2 separate regions of the Homo sapiens genome follow, and region 2 is linked to region 1. Evidence: fine-mapped expression QTL. Tissue or cell type: whole blood. Region 1 holds a variant in brackets; the other region holds the start of a gene. All regions are shown on one strand. Distances are from middle to middle.

Region 1 (8,172 bases):
CTGGTGACAGCACCTCATATGACACCTCAGCCCTGGCAGGGCCTCACTGGCCTAGACTTGGGCAGGGGAGCTCCCCTCTGGGAGCCCCAGCTTTGCCGTCCCTGCCCCACTTGTATTGCAGGATGGTCACAGTGATCACTGGGCAGCAGCATTGAAGCCAGGAGGCTGCACTAGTGGCCCCAGGTCTAAATCTGGTCGTAGGGGTGCTGCTGAATTAGGTGACAACATATACAGACCAGGAAGTGTCATGTCAACATCTAATCCTGTTCCTGAGACAGTGGGCAACAGGCGCCATGGGCTGCATCCCCATGGGCTGCCCTGGCAGAGCTGAGCTACCGCGCCCCATGAGGGCCAGGCAGCCACCACAACCCCATCAGCACTGCCTGCCCGGCCCTGCGGGGCCTAGGGGTGGGTGGCCTCTGCATTATGCAAACATGAGTTCATCTTCTGATCACTCCTCCAAGTAACAGTTTGCATTTTAATCAGGGCCTTCCATGCTCTGACCTCGGCAGTGACTAACGGAAGCATTTCAGGCCCTGGGAAGGGCAGGAAGGGGATATTTAGGAGGAAGGCAGATACCAACATCACAAAAACTGTTCTCCTGAAAGGTGGCATCTTGCAGGGATGACCCAGCGCAGGCAGGGTCTCTCTGCCTGCTTCAGTGCAAAGGGCTTTTTGTGGAATGAGTGAACATCTGCCTGCCTCTCTCCCAGTTCTGCCTTGGGGAACAGGTGGATGCTGACTTCCTGTTCTGCCCGCCCCTCTGATGCCTCGTGATACTGTTTCTGGCTCCTGCTAAGATGTGGGACCAGGTTCAGCAAATCTCACTAGGACCTACCCCAGCAGAAACATCTCTCCCTTCTCCCACTCTACCTTTGCTAACATAGCCTCAGGTGGGTCCAGTGAGCATCTTTGCCCCCTAGAGGCTCATGCTGAGATGACAGTCACCTGAGCCCCAGACTGTCTCCTAGAAAGCACTGAAATGTGACAGTGTGTGTCCCTCCCCAGAAGCCAGCAAACCCAAGGCCTGTGGCAACACACAAGTGCCCTGAACGGATGGACAGTTGCACAAATGCACAAATGGGCCTCTGTGTGCGTTCCAGGGCTGCCAGGCACTTGAACAAACTTGACCTGGTTTTCCTTACTCTCTTGTCAGTCCTCTCCGGAAAAAGCTATCATCCCCATTATACAAAGGGGAAACTGAGGCTCAGAGAAGCAGAAAAAGCCCCCACTCGTGGCCAGCGATCTCACTTGCTTCTGGGTGTGGCCAAGCCACAGTGGGTCTCCTCCTCTCGGAGAAGCTGGGCTCAGGGAACACAGAGGTGGCACATGGGTGGATGGGAGTGGGCAGAGGTATGGCAGCAGGCAGGTCCCACAAATGCTGAGATCTGCCACGCTTGTGAACCCCGCAACACCTGATGCTGGGGTGGAGGTGGAGGGTCGTCTGGTTTATTGTTACCACTACTCTTTTCTACCACCGTAGTCCTTACAAGGCTTACAGCAGACAGATAACCAGGCAAGGCCCAGCGTGACCAGGCCCAGACTCCTTCCAGAAAAGACATGGCACAGGTACCCAGCAGTGTGGATACAGTGTCTTGAGCCTCACGGGGCACCTGTGGCTGGTCTGCTGTGGAACCATGAGCCAGTGTTGGGGAGGAGCAAGGTGGGGCGAGGCAGGCCTTGCCCAGGTTGGCAAAGGTGACCTGAGTCAGCCCAAGGCTGCTCCAGGCTAGTGAGTCACCCAGCTCCCCACGTGAATGGACATCACAGCCGCCCAGCCCTGTGCTGCTCGGACCTCAGCAAGGAACCACCTCAGGGGCGCCATGGAGAAGTTCTTGTCATGGTAGGCCCCAGCCTCCCAGGGGTCCTGCAGAGGTAGGGGCTCATGGTGGGAATCTGGGGGCAGCTAGGAGCTATGAAGGGCATCTGGGCCTCGGGGTCAGAGGACTGGGTCCAATCTGGGGCTCCCAACTCCTGGCTGCATGACCTCAAGCATGTCACTTCTCTGTAAAACTGGAACCACAAGCGCTGACTTGCAGGATCTGTGCAAACAACAAGCTCAGTGCCTGGCATATGAGTGGAGATCCATGGGGCTGGGTGGCTGCCACCCACTCCTGGGATCTCAGAGACCACCACTGGAAGACAGTCCCTAAAATTCAAAGGAGAAGCTCCAATCAGACTTGGGCACGTGCCCCTCAACACCTTCCCACTTGACTCCCCCAGCCTGTGCTCCCCTCCGTGGGCTGTGGCTCCACCTGGCTATGCCCTGCCATTGGACCCTACCCCATTTTGCATCCTCTGCTCTCAGCCTCTTCCTCTCCCTGGCTGGGGGATGTGAGCAGGAATGGCTCAATCAGGATATAATCGTTTTTAATTAACGTGCGGATCATTTCACAGCCTGATCTCCTTGGAGACCAGAGGGAAGACGGTCTTTTAAGATTTTCTTTTGCCTCCCTCAACCCCACCCCTCCCTGTCGAAGGCCTTCCCTCTCTTCGCCCACCCAGCCACAACCTTGAAGCAGCACAAAAGCCTGATGCCTGGATCCCTCCTGGGGCCATTAGGAGGAAACAGTGTGCTCACACACAGACATGCACACATGCATGCACGCGCACACACAAGACCGAGCTCGGGGGCACCCTCCCTTCCCCCCAGAAATGCACAAATGGGATCAGAGACTGACACCACAGAGGGGACACACACAGGGACGGACACACACACACACAGAGGCACGCATGCACAACACATGCCCAAGCTGGAAGGCACACAAACCCCTTAAGCAATACACAAGCAGGATCAGAGGCACACGGATGGTTGGTGTGCTGCAGGGGAGGGGGCAGAAAGTCCCTGTCCTCTGATGGGGAATACTGTCTCTGCTTCAACTCTTTCTTCCCTCTCTCTCTCCTTCCCTTCTCCCCGGGGGGTCTCCTGGGGTGAATCTCGGGCCAGAGAGAGATTTTAAGGTGCACCCCATCCCCCACACCACTCCTTCATACCTCATATCTGTGCCAACATCTGCCTCTGCTCCTGAACAGATCCAAGGTTAGGTCTCTGACAAGTAAACTGAGGCATGGGGCAAGGACGCAACCACTAGGGTCCCCAGAGACCTACAGTCCCACCCCCTCACTGCATCTGCTTTGGATCCTCAGCTTTTTGTCTGGAGAATGGGATGGCAAAGAGGAAGGGGAACTGTGGTGGGCAGGTGGGGCGGGCAACAGGGAGCCTGTAGCCGCCAGATCCCGTGAACACACCCAGTCGGGGGTGGCCCAGGAGGGCCGAGAAGCCTGTCTGGGGCTCCAGCTGGCGGCACCAGGGGTAAGCTTGGGGTCTCAGTCCCCCCATCTGTGAAATGGGCAGGGTCAGCCTTAAAGACCTCAGGAATCTTTTCAGATGCGAAAACCAACATGGCAAATCAGTAGCTGGGTCTTCGCTGCTGCATAGCCCAGCAACTGCTGTGTGACCTTGGGACTCGCTTCCCCTCTCTGGGCTCTGGCTTCCTCTTCTGTCAAAGGAGGGAGGTCAGATAGGTGATTCATTGCCAAGGCTCTTTTCGGCTCTGATGGAAGGTTCTAGATTGTGGGGAAGGAAAAATAGTGTCCCATTTATCCAAGGAAAACTAGAGAAGCCGTTTCTCCCACTGCAGGCAGTCGGAGCCTTCGGCATCAGCAGTGGCATTTTGAGCAAATCATTTTAAGTATCAAGAAAAGCTATACAAAATATATCCACTACATCATTCATCAGGAACATCCAGAATGTTGGACAAAAGGGGAATATTAAGTAAATTATGGTACATCCACTTGATTGGAAAAGCCTGAAGACATTAACCATGGTGTTTATGAAGCATTGGTTACAAAACAGGAAAAGGCTCACATTATGCCGGCAAAGCAAGCAGGATATACATCTGAATATAGAGAATGACGACAAAGTCTTTAAAAAACAAACCAACCACCGAGTCGAAAAGGACTGGGAAGAACTACATCAAAATACTAACATTGTCAGAGCCCTCTAAGACTGTCAATAACCTTATTTTTCTCTTTTTTTTTCAGCTTTTCTGTGAATGCTATTTTACAATATATATTTCAAAAAGGTTTAAAAAAAACCACAAGGGCTAGATGCTTCCAATTGA[G/A]AAACTTTCCCTTTTCATTCATTCACCACTGATTCATTCACTCCATTTAGCTGGACAAATACAGGACACTGTGAGTGACTGCTGTGTGCTAGGCCCTGGGGGCCCTAAGGAAGATAGGAAGAAAAAGGTTCTTGAAAACGGAAACTCGAGGTCTGGGGAAGGGAAGGCAGCCCCATAAATAAGGGGGTTGTGCCATAGGGCATGAGCAGCAGTGAATCCCTTGCTGGTTTCAGTCCTGCCTCCCAGAGCCTCACCCAGGCCTCCCTCAGCCACTAGGGTCTCATGGTCCAACCTATGGGTCAGACACCCACATTTAATGGCCAGGCCTGCAGCTGAGTGGGTGTGTGGGAAGGGTGGGGAGCAGGGCAAAGCCTTGCTCAGGAGTCTGGGCAAAGGGTAGAAGGGCCTCTCCCTTCCCTCTACCCCAGACCCATGGCGACTTCCCTTCCAGTTTCCGATGGCCCTGGCTTGTAACCCCTCTTCCCTCCGGGCCACAAGGCCACTGCTTTGCTGCCTGACCCTCTCTGGGCTCTCATTTCCGCCTCCCACAAGGTCCCTGAACAAGGCACCACCCAGCCGAGTCCTGTTGGGCTTTGAAGGGGGAGTCCAGGGTCTAGAATCTGCTAGCTCCAGTCAGCCGGTGTCACACTGTTAGCATGTCAGAGGGTCCAACAATGTTTCCCTGCTGTGTGGGGGCTGACAAATTTCTGGGGGAGGGTTAACTCTTTCTATTCCTGGACCAAGAGACAGAACAGCCTGAACACAGTCTAGCCGCCCCCCTCCCTCTCAAAAGGTGCCTCCCCTCTCCCCCAGGAATTCTCTTTTTAAGTAGGGAGAGGAATTGCCTTCACCTGCCTGGGTTGCCAGCTTGGTGTCTCTGGACCTGGCTCTCTACCCCAGGAAGAAAAAGGGGAGGGGGCACCTTGATAGCCTGGCTGCTTGCCTGGGAATCCAATTAAGGCTGATTTCCACGGGCTCTCCACCCCCGCAACGCCAGTCCAGCTAGCCCTTCGCTCTTCCACCTCTCCCCTTCCTCTGCATCCCCCGATGGAGCAAAATAATCTGGGGGCTTCTGCGTGCCGGGAAGCCTCTGACCCGGTGGTCCCCCCTTGGATTGAGTCCCCGCCTCAGAACTGCGGTCCCCAGAAATTTTCTGGGCTAGCATTCCCTTCCCATGGCCTCAATGGGAAAGGAGAAGTTCCCACCACTCTCCTCCCCCTTCATCCTCCTCTCCTCCCGGCCCTGAGGGAGGGGTCGAGGCGTCCGGATCTCCGGGTCACCGGAGCAGCGTCTGCTGAGGATCGCAGGAGACAAACACTTCGTCACACAAGCACAGCACCCTCGGGATCACCTCTTTCAGCCCGCATTGTACCAGAGGGGAGGAGGCTGAGGTTGGAGGGGCCCTCGACGTGCCTGAAGTCACCAGCCAATCACCAAGCCCAAGAGGGGCTGCCATCCACGACCCCCGGCCGCGAACCCAAGCCTGCCGCCTTCGCCGCGCCCACCCCCCAGCCCCCTCCCTGCCCCGGCGCCATCCCAGGTCGACGTCTCTAACCAAAACAAGCCCCTCCCCCAGGAGCCCCCTCCCCCTGCCCGAGGCCCAGGGTCAGCAGCCCCAGGAGGGACCTCCTCCCCACCCCACTCCCCCCGGCAGAGGTGCGAGATTTCATTGTCAGCCTGGCCACTCGACCGCGCGTGAGACTGGGGCGCAGGGCAGGGGGGCCACTGGGCAGGCTCTCGTGCGGGGAGTGGGGAGGGGTCTCCAGGGGAAGTGTTTGAAGCCACTCCTGCAGCTCTGTCCAGATCCGGAAGCCGCCGAGGAAGGGAGGAAGGCGGGGGTGGGGAGAGCGCGACCTTAAGCGCTGGCGGGCGGCGAGGAGGGGCCGCAGCGGCCCGAGGAAGCGCCTGGAGGCGTCAGGGGCGCCGAGTCCCCAGGGAGGCCGCGCTCTCGGGAAGTTTCCCATCGGTTGCCCGGAGCAGGATCGGACGCGCGGATCGCCCTCCCCGGTCCGACCAGCTTCGGGGCGCAGATTGCGAACTTGAACAGAACTCCTTCCTTCTCTGGCATCTCTCGCCTCCCCATCCGTGGCCACCAGCCCCGCCATCTCAGCCCCATGCCTTCCGCCAATACCACATTCGTCAAGACCGCTCACCAATGCTTTGTGGAGGAAAGGGGAGGGGGGAATCCCCAGCACAACCAAACTGTGGCCAAAAGCGGCCAAAAAAAAAAAAAAAAAAAGGAAAGAAAGAAATTCCTTCTTCTGAGACCGATTCCCTCAACCAGCGTGGAAAACCCCCAAACATGCAAATCCGCAACTCCAGCCAAGATCCTGGCGCCGCGGGAGGGGTGTCCGCGGCGGGCGGCGACCCCAGCCTGCAGCCCCGGACTCCGGGCAGGTCTGCGCGCGGCGGCGGGCCGGGGGCTCGGGGAGCCCTGGCGCCCACAGCAGCCCGCCGAAAACACAAAGCTCCGCCGCCAACAATACCTGCGGGCTCCTCCTGGGTCTCCCGGGCGCCGGCGCTGCGCGTCTCGCCGTCTCCCTTTCCCCCGCCGTCTCTCTCCTCTCGCGCACGCTCTCCCTCTCGCCTCTTCCAGAACGCGGTGGCCAGATGAGATCCTTGGGAGAAACAAATGTGAGCGCTCGCACGAATCCTTTCTCTCGCCAGCCGCTTGCAACGGCCCCAGGCTCGCTCCTTTCCCTCGCGCTCCCGCGCGCGCCGCGCCTCTCGCGCCCCGCGTTTCCTTCTTAGCAGCCCCTGCGAGCGCCCTCAGTAGCCATTATTCACAGGCCGCCGGGGGTCAGGAGGTAATTAGAGACGGCCCCGTGGCCGCATCCACTCGGTAAGCGCGATGCTGGCGCGGGGCGCGCGCGGGGAGGGGCGCGCGATGAGGGGGCTTGGCTGCGCGCAGCCCGCGCCCCAGACTCGGGGGAAGGGAGGAGGAGGAGGGGGCAGGGAAGGAGGAGGCGGGCGGGGGGGCGAGAGATGAGCTCGGGAAGGGAGCGGGAGGAGGGGGCGCCGGGGAGACGCTCCCTTGGCTCTCACCGCGGGGCCTCGGGGTCACCCGCTGCGAGGCTCCGACGCGCTTAGGGACGGGGGGTGTGAGTGTAAGAGTGCGCGCGCGCGCAGGCGTGTGTATGTCAAAGATAGAGGAGGGGAGGGAGGGAACGCTTTAATATTTTTCCAGTGACTTACGAGCCTGCGGGTGAGGTCTTGGCTGTGCGTTTAGGTCCGTGTGTGTATCAATGTGGCTGTATATTTCTGGTCTGTCCTACGAGTGAATGTCACGGGGCTTGGGGGGGGGGGTCTGGATACAAGCTAGTGAATGTGTTTCTGGGTCTCAGTTTGACTGAATGATGTGGCGCTGCGTGGGGCTGTGTCTGTGCGATTGTTTATAGGGGGGTTGTGTGACTCCGTGAGGTACTGCGTGGGTGGGATTGCGCCTGTGTGCGGTTGTGTGTATATGGGATTGTGCCTGCGTGGGGCTGAGTGTCCAGAGGGCAGTTGTGTGGCCATGTGGGCCTGTTTGCGAGTGGGCTGGTGGGTGTGTGGGGCCGTGGGGCTGCGCATGTAGGGGCAGTGCGCCTGTACGGGGCTTTGGGTTAACTTAAAGGGCTGTGGTGGGTATCTGCAGGCGGTTGCGTGTGTGGCTGGATCTGCGTGGGGTCTGAGGCCTGGCGGGTGGGGGTTAGTCCTCCTGGCGTCGGGGATCGCACCGCGGCAGAAGAGCCGCTTAAGGCGCCAACAGGCAGCGCCGGGGTCGCGGCGCAGCGCGACGTGTAGTAGCGGTGGGGCGTAGAGAGAAGGCGGAGAAGAGGGGGGCCTTCATCGCGCGCCTCCCCTAGCCGCATCAGAGACGCAGCTTGGAGATCCTGCCGCTTGCCGGCCCCGCGGTCCTAGAAGCACAGGGTTTGGGGGACCCTCCCCAGCTGGGGGAGACGCCTACTGGCCGGGAAGGCAGCGAGAACTGAGACTCGATGATTCTGGCGCAGCACAGAAGCATGCGGCAAGGACCGCCAGGAGAGGTGGGTCGCGGCCCGGAGACAGC
Region 2 (8,172 bases), 46 kb after region 1:
CAGCTGTGGAAAGCAATGCATTTCAAACATGGGCTGCCATGGAGATAGAACAGCAATAACAATACAACAATGACGGCAGCAATCAGCATTTATTGGCAAAAGCACTGCTCTAAACTTCATATGGATTAACTCACTGCATCTTTACTTCAGTACCGTGAGGTCTGTACTGTTATTCTCCTGATTGTAAAGATGGGGACACTGAGGCACAGAGAGGTAAATGGCCTGTTCAGTATGTGGTGGAGCCAGGAGTCAACCCAGAACTTGCCCTGAAGGACTTCGCCACACAACCAACCTCTCCAAGACAAACGGAGAGGAAAAAGGAAGCTGCCGAGGAAGAGCCCACAGTATGTCCTCACTTGGGGAAAAAGAAAACTATGCATGGATTGGTATATGTAATATACATACATACATACATATATATATATATATATATATATATATATATATATGCATTAAGTGAGTAACAAAAAGTCTGGAAGGATACGTTCAAACTATTAACTGGGGTTACCTGCAGGGAGGGTGCCAAGGGAACTTTTACTTTTACTACATATATTTCTGGCTTATTTGCATTTTTCACCCAAGTATCCAAGTGTTACTTGAGTAGTTTAACATGAGAGGAATTATTAGGGTTGCAATTAACATTTGTTGCATGAATAGATGGCAAATTCATTTCCTAGGCTTGTTTTTTTCAAATTCTGGGTATGACCCATCAGTGGATTGCAAAATTAATTTCGTGGGTAGCAATCAGTAATTAAAAAAAAAACAAATACACAAGAACAAAAAGGATTACAGACCAGCAGACACAGTAAGGGAGTTATTTCAGTAAACTTTTGTTTCAGCTATATACAGTGTGACCTGTGTAGTTACCTACGATGTATTTCTTACTATAGGTCACGGGCAAGAATTTGAAAGCAATTGGTCTAGGCTTGGGAGTCTAAAGAGGAGTAAGGCTGGGTGCAGTGACTCACTCCTGTAATCCCAGCACTTTGGGAGGCCAAAGAGGGAGGATCGCTTGAGCCCAGGACTTCAAGACCAGCCATGGCAAGACCCCTGTCTCTAGAAAAAAAAAAAAATTTAAAATTAGCTACGTGTGGTGTCGGGCGCCTGTGATCCCAGCTACTCAGGAGACTGATGCTGGAGGATCGCTTGAGCCCTGGAGGTTGAGGCTGAAGTGAGCTGTGTTTGTGCCAAGGCACTCCAGCCTGGGCCACACAGCAAGACCCTGTCTCAAAAATAAAACAAAGAGGAGTAAGACAGGGTCCCTGCCTATGAGAGCCCCACAGTCTAGTGGAAGAGAAAGGCAGCTCCAGTACCCCTGAGTTCCCTTTATCTCCACAGAAGCCAGAGGGATGCTAGGCTGGTGGGAAAGGTCCTATTTTGCCCACTCCACAGTTGGCTTCTGGGGCCTGGATCTCACCTTGATACATTCTCCTCCTCTCCAAGGCTTTTGCTTGTGAGAGCTTTTGCCAGAGTTATGGGGCTGAGCCTGCCCTGAGATCAGAATGATGTGTCCACTTCTGTGTCACGCAAAAGGCCACTTTTCCTTGCTCCTGGGCCCCGAATATACCGGCTTGCCTGTCAAGAGGGGGAGGGGTGGGAAACTAGAAGATTCCTTTCCAGTTTCTAGATCCCGAGGGCCACGTCCCAGGAAAGCCTCTGAAAACCCAGCTGTGTGGTCAGCAGGGAGGGGCCACCATTCAGTCTGCAGCGAGGGCTGCCCCCCACCTGGGGTGGGCCTGACCCTGAGCAGAGCGAGGACTGTATGGAGAATGGAGGGGGGCAGGGGCAGGAAGAGAAGCAGAGCCCCCAGCTCGGGGCTCCCATCACGCTGGCGCCTCCACATCAGAGCTAGCCTAACCCACCCCCGCCTCTCCTCCCAGGGCAGCAGACAACTAAAAAAAGATAAAATAAAAAGAAGTAATTCCCCTGCTCTGACGTCAGCGCGAGGTCTTAACAGCCCGGCAGCGGCATGAAACTGGATTGCAACCAGATGTAATGCCCTTGAATTCTCAACACACTACTGCATTGGAAAGACATAAAAGGGGGGCGGGGGACAGTATTGGTGGGAGGAACCGTGCAGATCCCGAGTGGGTCCCTGAATCCGGGCCCGCCGAAACCGCGGGGAAGGCGGCGCGGGAGAGTGTGCGGCGCGCGGAGCAGCGCCCGGCCGGCTCCGCCATTCAGGCGCGCGGCCTCCCCTCCCCCAGCCCCCACCGGCGCATTGTTACACTCGCTCCCATCCATTCAGAGCCCGAGGCCCGCCGCGCCCCCGCCAGCCCGGGCTCCGCGCAGGAGAGCACCGCGGCAGCCCGCACTCCGGCCCCTGCGTGGACTGGATAACGACCAAGAGCCCCAAGAAAGAAAACTGCTAGCCGGGAAAACGGGCGCCCCAGGAAGCTGGGGCCGCGACGGCCTAGGGCCTGGCTGGTGTTTCGCTTCCCCTCCGCCCCACCACGGAGGCCCCTGGCGCGACCAGGCTCCAAATGTCACCCTCGCGTCCTGCCACCCCTTGTCCCCGCCGCACTCGGCCCCCATGTCCTCCTCCCGGGTTCCCTGCCTTCAAGGCGCGTGAGAGGGGGGGCCGGCCTCGAAAAGGGCGGCGGGCTGCGCCGCCGTCTGTGGGGCGCAAGGCTCGCGTGTCCGGGGCCCCCGCCCGTGACGTCATCCCCGAAGGGCCCGTGCCTCCCGGGCCTGGCCGCTACAGAGCTCCCCAGGTCGCGGGGGCCGCTTCCTGCCCGGCCTCGGGGCCTGCGCACAGGCCCCGGGGCCGCTGCCCGGGTAGGGACACCGCAGAGAGCCCGAGCACCCATCTCGCCACGCACGGCCTTCGCCGGCCCTGACTCCCAAGCGATGGCCACGCCGGGCCCGGGTCACGCATGGGGAAGTCAGCTCCCCGTCCCCCACCTCGGACGCACTCACAAAGCTCACCTCCGCCCCCGGCGCCCCGCGAATGCACCCCACGTCCCCACCCCACGCTCCGCAAAGACTCCGCGCCTCGGCGCAAGCAGATCCCTTGCCACACTCGCCCCTCGCGCCCCCATGCCCCCACCCGACCTCAGCTGGCCGCACATCCCCCAGAAGACCCTCAGCCGCGGCGCAGGGCGCCCCCACCCTGCAGCTCCCCAGACGTCCATCCGGTGACCTCGCGCACCCCCCACACCACACAAAGCAAGGACCCCGCGGACCCCACATCTCCACCCAGCGCGCGCGCTCGGCGTCCGAACCCGCCTCGGCTCATCACCCGGCCTAGGATCCCGACGCCTCGCGCCGCCCCCGCCCCGGGGCAGGATACACTGCGCCCCCCGCGCCCCGGCGCTCGCTGCTCACCTCGGCGCCCGCGCTCACTCGGGGGCCTTGGGTCTGGCGCTGCGACTTCGCGGCCCGGAGGCCTGGGTGGCCATGGGGGTCGGGGCGCGGCGGCCCGGCCGGCCCGCGGCCAGGCAGGAAGGAGGGTGGGCCGCGGCGCCCCCTCCTCGCGCCGGCGCTAGGGCCGCGGGCAGGGCGGCCTGCTCGGCTCGCCTCTCGCCCTCGCTGCACTCGCTCTCCCACTCGTCTCTCGGAGCCCAGCCGCGGGCGGGGGCGGCGCCCGGGGACGCGGGGAGCGGGCCTTGGCCGCGCACCCGGCCGGGCCTGCCTGGTGTCCGCGGGTGCCGCGAGGAATGCGATCCCCTCCGCACAGGAAGAGCGGACGAGCGGACGGGCGGGCGGGCGACGCGCGGGGGGAGAAGGAGAGCAAGAGCGCGAGGAAAAAAGTTCCCGGGCGGCCTGGCTGCGCTCGCTCGCGGCCCCGGGCGCCAGGTGGGCCGTGCGCGCCCCGACAGCACCCCCTGGCGGTCCGCGCGCCCCACTGCGCGCCCCCCGCCCGCTGGCCGGCCTGCGGGAGGGGGCCTCTGCGGTGGGATCCCGGTGCGGCCTGGGAGGACACTAGCGCCCTGCGTACAGGAGCTTCCAGCGTCAGGCCAGGCCCCCACCCTCACCCCACCATTAGCCCTCACCTGTGCCCACTTCTTTGCAGTTTGAGAAACATTTTCGATTTCAAAACTCCATTGGCTTCATGTAAACTTCATTTACTGGGCACCTGGCACCTTGCTGAGTCTTGAGGAATCAGCAGAGACAATGCGGTCCCTGCTGTCGTGGAGCTGGCATCCTGGTGGGAAGAGACAGACAGCAAACAAATGCTTAGATACATGACGAAGATAATTTTAGAGCAGTAAGTGCTAGGACGAAAATTAGCAGGTGAAGTGACGGCTAGGGCTCCTTGGCTGGGGGAGAGAGAAGGAGGCCTGTCTGTGCAAAGATCTAAATAGCAAGAGGAACCGCCATGGGTAGAGTCTGGGAAGAGCATTTTGTTCTTTTAGAGGCAGGGTCTTGCTGTGTTGCCCAGGCCGAACTTGAATTCCTGGCCTCAAACAGTCCTCCCACCTCAGCCTTCTGAGTAGCTGGGACTACAGGGGCCTGCCCTCCTGGGAAGAGCATCATTGGCAGAAAGAACATCAAGTGCAAAGGTCCTGAGGCAGGAGAGAACTTGGTGAGTAAGTGGAATTGTGAGGAGGCCGTCAGCAAGGGGACAAGTAATGGGCACATTGAAGTCAGAGCCATATCGGGAGGGCCAGAGCCTGCAGGGCTGCAGAGAGCTCAGTGAGGAATTTGTTTGCAATTCTAGTGCAAGGAAGGTAGCCACTGGCAGACTTTAAACAGAGGCATGTTGAATGAGAGAGTCCTTGCATGAAACTTAAGGTACAGACCTCGGAGCAATTTCATGCCTAGGTCTCTACTTGCCATAGCTCAGGTGGGAGCTCACTGCCACCTGCTTGGGAAGCCTCTCAGCCCCACCCAGGCTCTAGGGTCTGTGGGATATGACCCCATTAACAGCCCCATCGAAGCCTCCCTCATTTGTCCTTTGGTAGGGCAGAGGGGAGCTGGTCAAGGCATCAGAGCTTGTGGGTGACCTGGGACAAGTGAATCCTGCATCTGCAAAATAAGGTATTGTGATAGATGGGGGGCCCTCACTCTGTCCCAGGCCTGCTGTGCCCCTTCTGTGCATGGTCTCATTAGATCCTGGTGCCCCCTCTGTGAGGTCGGCTCATCACATTTTGTGGATGAGGAAACAGGCGCAGAGTGGTGAAGTCCCCTGTCCAGGTTCTCAAGCTACAGGACAGAATCAACACAGGTCCCCACAGTCCTTCCTACTGGACTTGGCTACCCGTCTCCCAGGGTGAATGTCAAGAGCAAGACAGAGCTGGATCCCAGTGCGAACTGTGTTGTTTTAAGCTTGTTTTAAGTGCGGTTTCTGGATGACAGATCTGGTTTATTTTTATTTATTTATTTATGTATTTTTTTTTTGAGACGGAGTTTTGCCCCTGTTGCCCTGCCTGGAGTGCAATGGTGCGATCTTGGCTCACCACAACCTCTGCCTCCCAGATTCAAGCAATTCTCCTGCCTCAGCCTCCCGAGTAGCTGGGATTACAGACATGCACCGCCACACCCACCTAATTTTGTATTTTTAGTAGAGACAGGGTTTCTCCATGTTGGTCAAGCTGATCTTGAACTCCTGACCTCAGGTGATCCACCTGCCTCGGACTCCCAAAGTGCTGAGATTTCAGACATGAGCTACCGCGCCTGGCAAATCTGGTTTCTAAACGTGGCTCCTCTATGCCCAGCTGGGTGGCTTTGGGCAAACTACTTAACTTGCTGAGCCTCCGTTTCCTCATCTGTAGAATGGGGATAATAGTACCTACCTCATGGGTCTGTTGAGAGGATTGAATGAGGTACGTGTGGAAAGCATTTAGCTCACAGCCTGGCATGCAGTAAGTGCTATTACTGCTTTAAGATGCTAGATTAATGGGAACAGTCCCTATCATCCATCCAGGGCTCCCAATCTCCACCCCGAGCTGGTCTCCTGCCCTCCCTGCCTTACCTTAACCTGCTCCTGAGTGGAGCCTAAGGGAAGGCTGGTTCTAGGGACCCCAGTGGGAGGCAAGACAAGGAGGTCTTGCTGGGAGATTTCTGGTTCCCACACAAGGGTCCCCAAGACTAGCTTCTCCACCTGGAGAGGGTGGGAGACCAGCTGGAACCCCAAGGAGAGTCAATTTTCTGGCCTTGGAATTAGGTATTTTTTGTTTTGAAAATTCCTTGGTATCAAGTTTACATGACTGGGGCCACTGGACCCTGTAGGCAGGGCTGGGGGTACAAAGAGGATCACAAGCCTGGCCTCTTTGGGAGCCATAGCTCAGGCACCACTCAAGGAAGCACATTTGTTCAAGGGATTAGCATTTCTGGATGTCAGTTCAGCGAAGGGTTGGAGGAGGTGGCGATTGAGGCAGACCTCAGAGGATGGGCAGGAAGGGAGCCCTGGGTTGCAAAGGGGATGGGTGTCCCAGAGAGTGAGAGGAGGAAGGAATATGCAGGCAGATGGAAGAGGGTGTGCGGTCAAGGTACTAACAACTGCTTTTGTGTGTGAGTGTGAATGTGTGTATATGTGTGTGTAAGACAGAGTCTCACTCTGTTGCCCAGGCTGGAGTGCAATGGTGTGATCATAGCTGACTGCAGCCTCAAACTCCTGAACTCAAGCAGTTCTCCCACCTCAGCCCCCTGAGTAACTGGGACCACAGGCATACACCACTATGCCTAGCCAATTTATTTTTTATAGAGATGGCATCTTGCTATGTTGCCCAGGCTGGTCTTGAATTCTGGGCTCAAGTGATCCTCCTGCCTTGGCCTCCCAAAGTGCTGGAATTACAAGTGTGAGCCACCACGCCTGACCAGAACTGCCACTTTTGAGTACCTACTGTGTGCCAGGTGCCTAGGGATGTTGTAACAAATTCCACAAGTGGCTTAAAATAACACAAATTAATTAATTAATTAATTTATTTATTTATTTATTTATTTATTTATGACAGAGTCTTGCTCTGTTGCCCAGGCTTGAGTGCAGTGGCGCAATCTTGGCTCACTGTAACCTCTGCCTCTCGGGTTCAAGTGATTCTCGTGCCTCTGCCTTCCAAGTAGCTGAGACCACAGGCACATACCACACCACCAAGCCTAGCTAATTTTTGTATTTTTTGTGGAGAGTGGGTTTCACCATGTTGCCCAGCCTAGACAGATTTATTCTTTACAGTTCTGGAGGTCAGAACTCCAAAATCAGTTTCACTGGGCTAAAGCCAAGGTGTGGGCTGGGCTAGCTCTCCTGGTGCCTCCAGGAGAGAATCTCTTCCTTGCCTTTTCCAATTTCTGGAGGTTGCCTGTGTTTCTCAGCTTGTGACCCCTTGGTGACCTCCAGAAGCTAGAACAGGCAAGAAAACAATTGCTTCCATTGTCCCAGCTTCTACTTCCTCCCTTGACCTTCCTGCCTCTGCTCATGAGGACCCTTGTGATTCCATTCCGGTCCACCTGGATAATCCAGGCTAATCCCTCCATCTCAAGAAGACTCTTAATTTATTTAATCACATCTGCAAGGACCCTCTGAATGCTGTCTTGCCTCAACTCATTTTACAGATAAGAAAATCAAGGCTCAGAGAGGTGAAGTCACTGATCCAAAGTCACACAGCAGGTGAGTTTAGTCACCCATTTCATGCATGGAGAGCCCACTGTGGGTCAGACACTGGGTTAGACCCTGGGTTGCAATGTGAAAGTTACCCATGAAGAGTGCTGTGGTGCCCAGGCATGCAGAGTAATGACCTAGTCCTGTCAAGGAATTCAGGGAAGGCTTCCTGGAGGAGGTGATTAGTGAGTTGAGCTTTCAAGAGTGATTTTCCTCTGCCTGCTTTAACCAGGGAGGCTTCTGAACAAACGAGGGCCCTTCCAGAGGAGGACAGCCATAGGCCTAACCATCCTGAGACTGCTCTGAATGATGCTGGTTGAGAGGGCTCAGTCTTCTCAGAAGAGAACTAGGAACTGATCAGGGATCACTGTCAGCAGAGCTAGCCCCAAGACACTTCTGCTGCTGACCCTGCTTGTCATCCTTAGTTGCACACAGGTAGAAGGGTGAGCAGGGGTGTGCACGCTATGCAATGCAGAGGCTCAATAAAGTCAGTGTTGGGGCAGAGTCTCAAACTTGCAGCTCAAAGGCCGAACTCAGGCTGCTAGGTTTGTTTTGATTGGAAAGCAGAGCAAAAAGTGAAAATTTTGAAGTTGACATACGTTGCCAGGTGCAGTGGCTCATGCCTGTAATTCCAG

Evidence for each region. PIP is the estimated chance that this variant, and not a neighbour inherited with it, causes the effect.
Region 2: RAI1 starts here. The variant in region 1 is fine-mapped to the expression of RAI1 in whole blood (TOPMed, PIP above 0.99).

Annotation. Positions count from the first base shown.
Region 1 is chr17:17,722,598-17,730,769 of GRCh38, reverse strand. It overlaps RAI1 (retinoic acid induced 1), which reads right to left. Exons shown (of 6, transcript NM_030665.4): 2 at 6,611-6,742. Among named protein-coding and RNA genes, the nearest start is that of RAI1-AS1, 40 kb to the left of the region's middle. RefSeq lists silencers at 819-878, 908-1,106, 821-1,115 and an enhancer at 4,877-5,758. The variant G/A (reference allele first, on the strand shown) is at 4,125.
Region 2 is chr17:17,676,949-17,685,120 of GRCh38, reverse strand. RAI1 (retinoic acid induced 1) reads right to left here and starts at 3,663. Exons shown (of 6, transcript NM_030665.4): 1 at 3,328-3,663. SMCR2 (Smith-Magenis syndrome chromosome region, candidate 2) reads left to right here and starts at 7,433. Exons shown (of 4, transcript NR_131243.2): 1 at 7,433-7,546. RefSeq lists silencers at 2,003-2,952, 2,939-3,111, 3,123-3,202, 3,263-3,402, 3,433-3,942 and an enhancer at 3,021-3,622.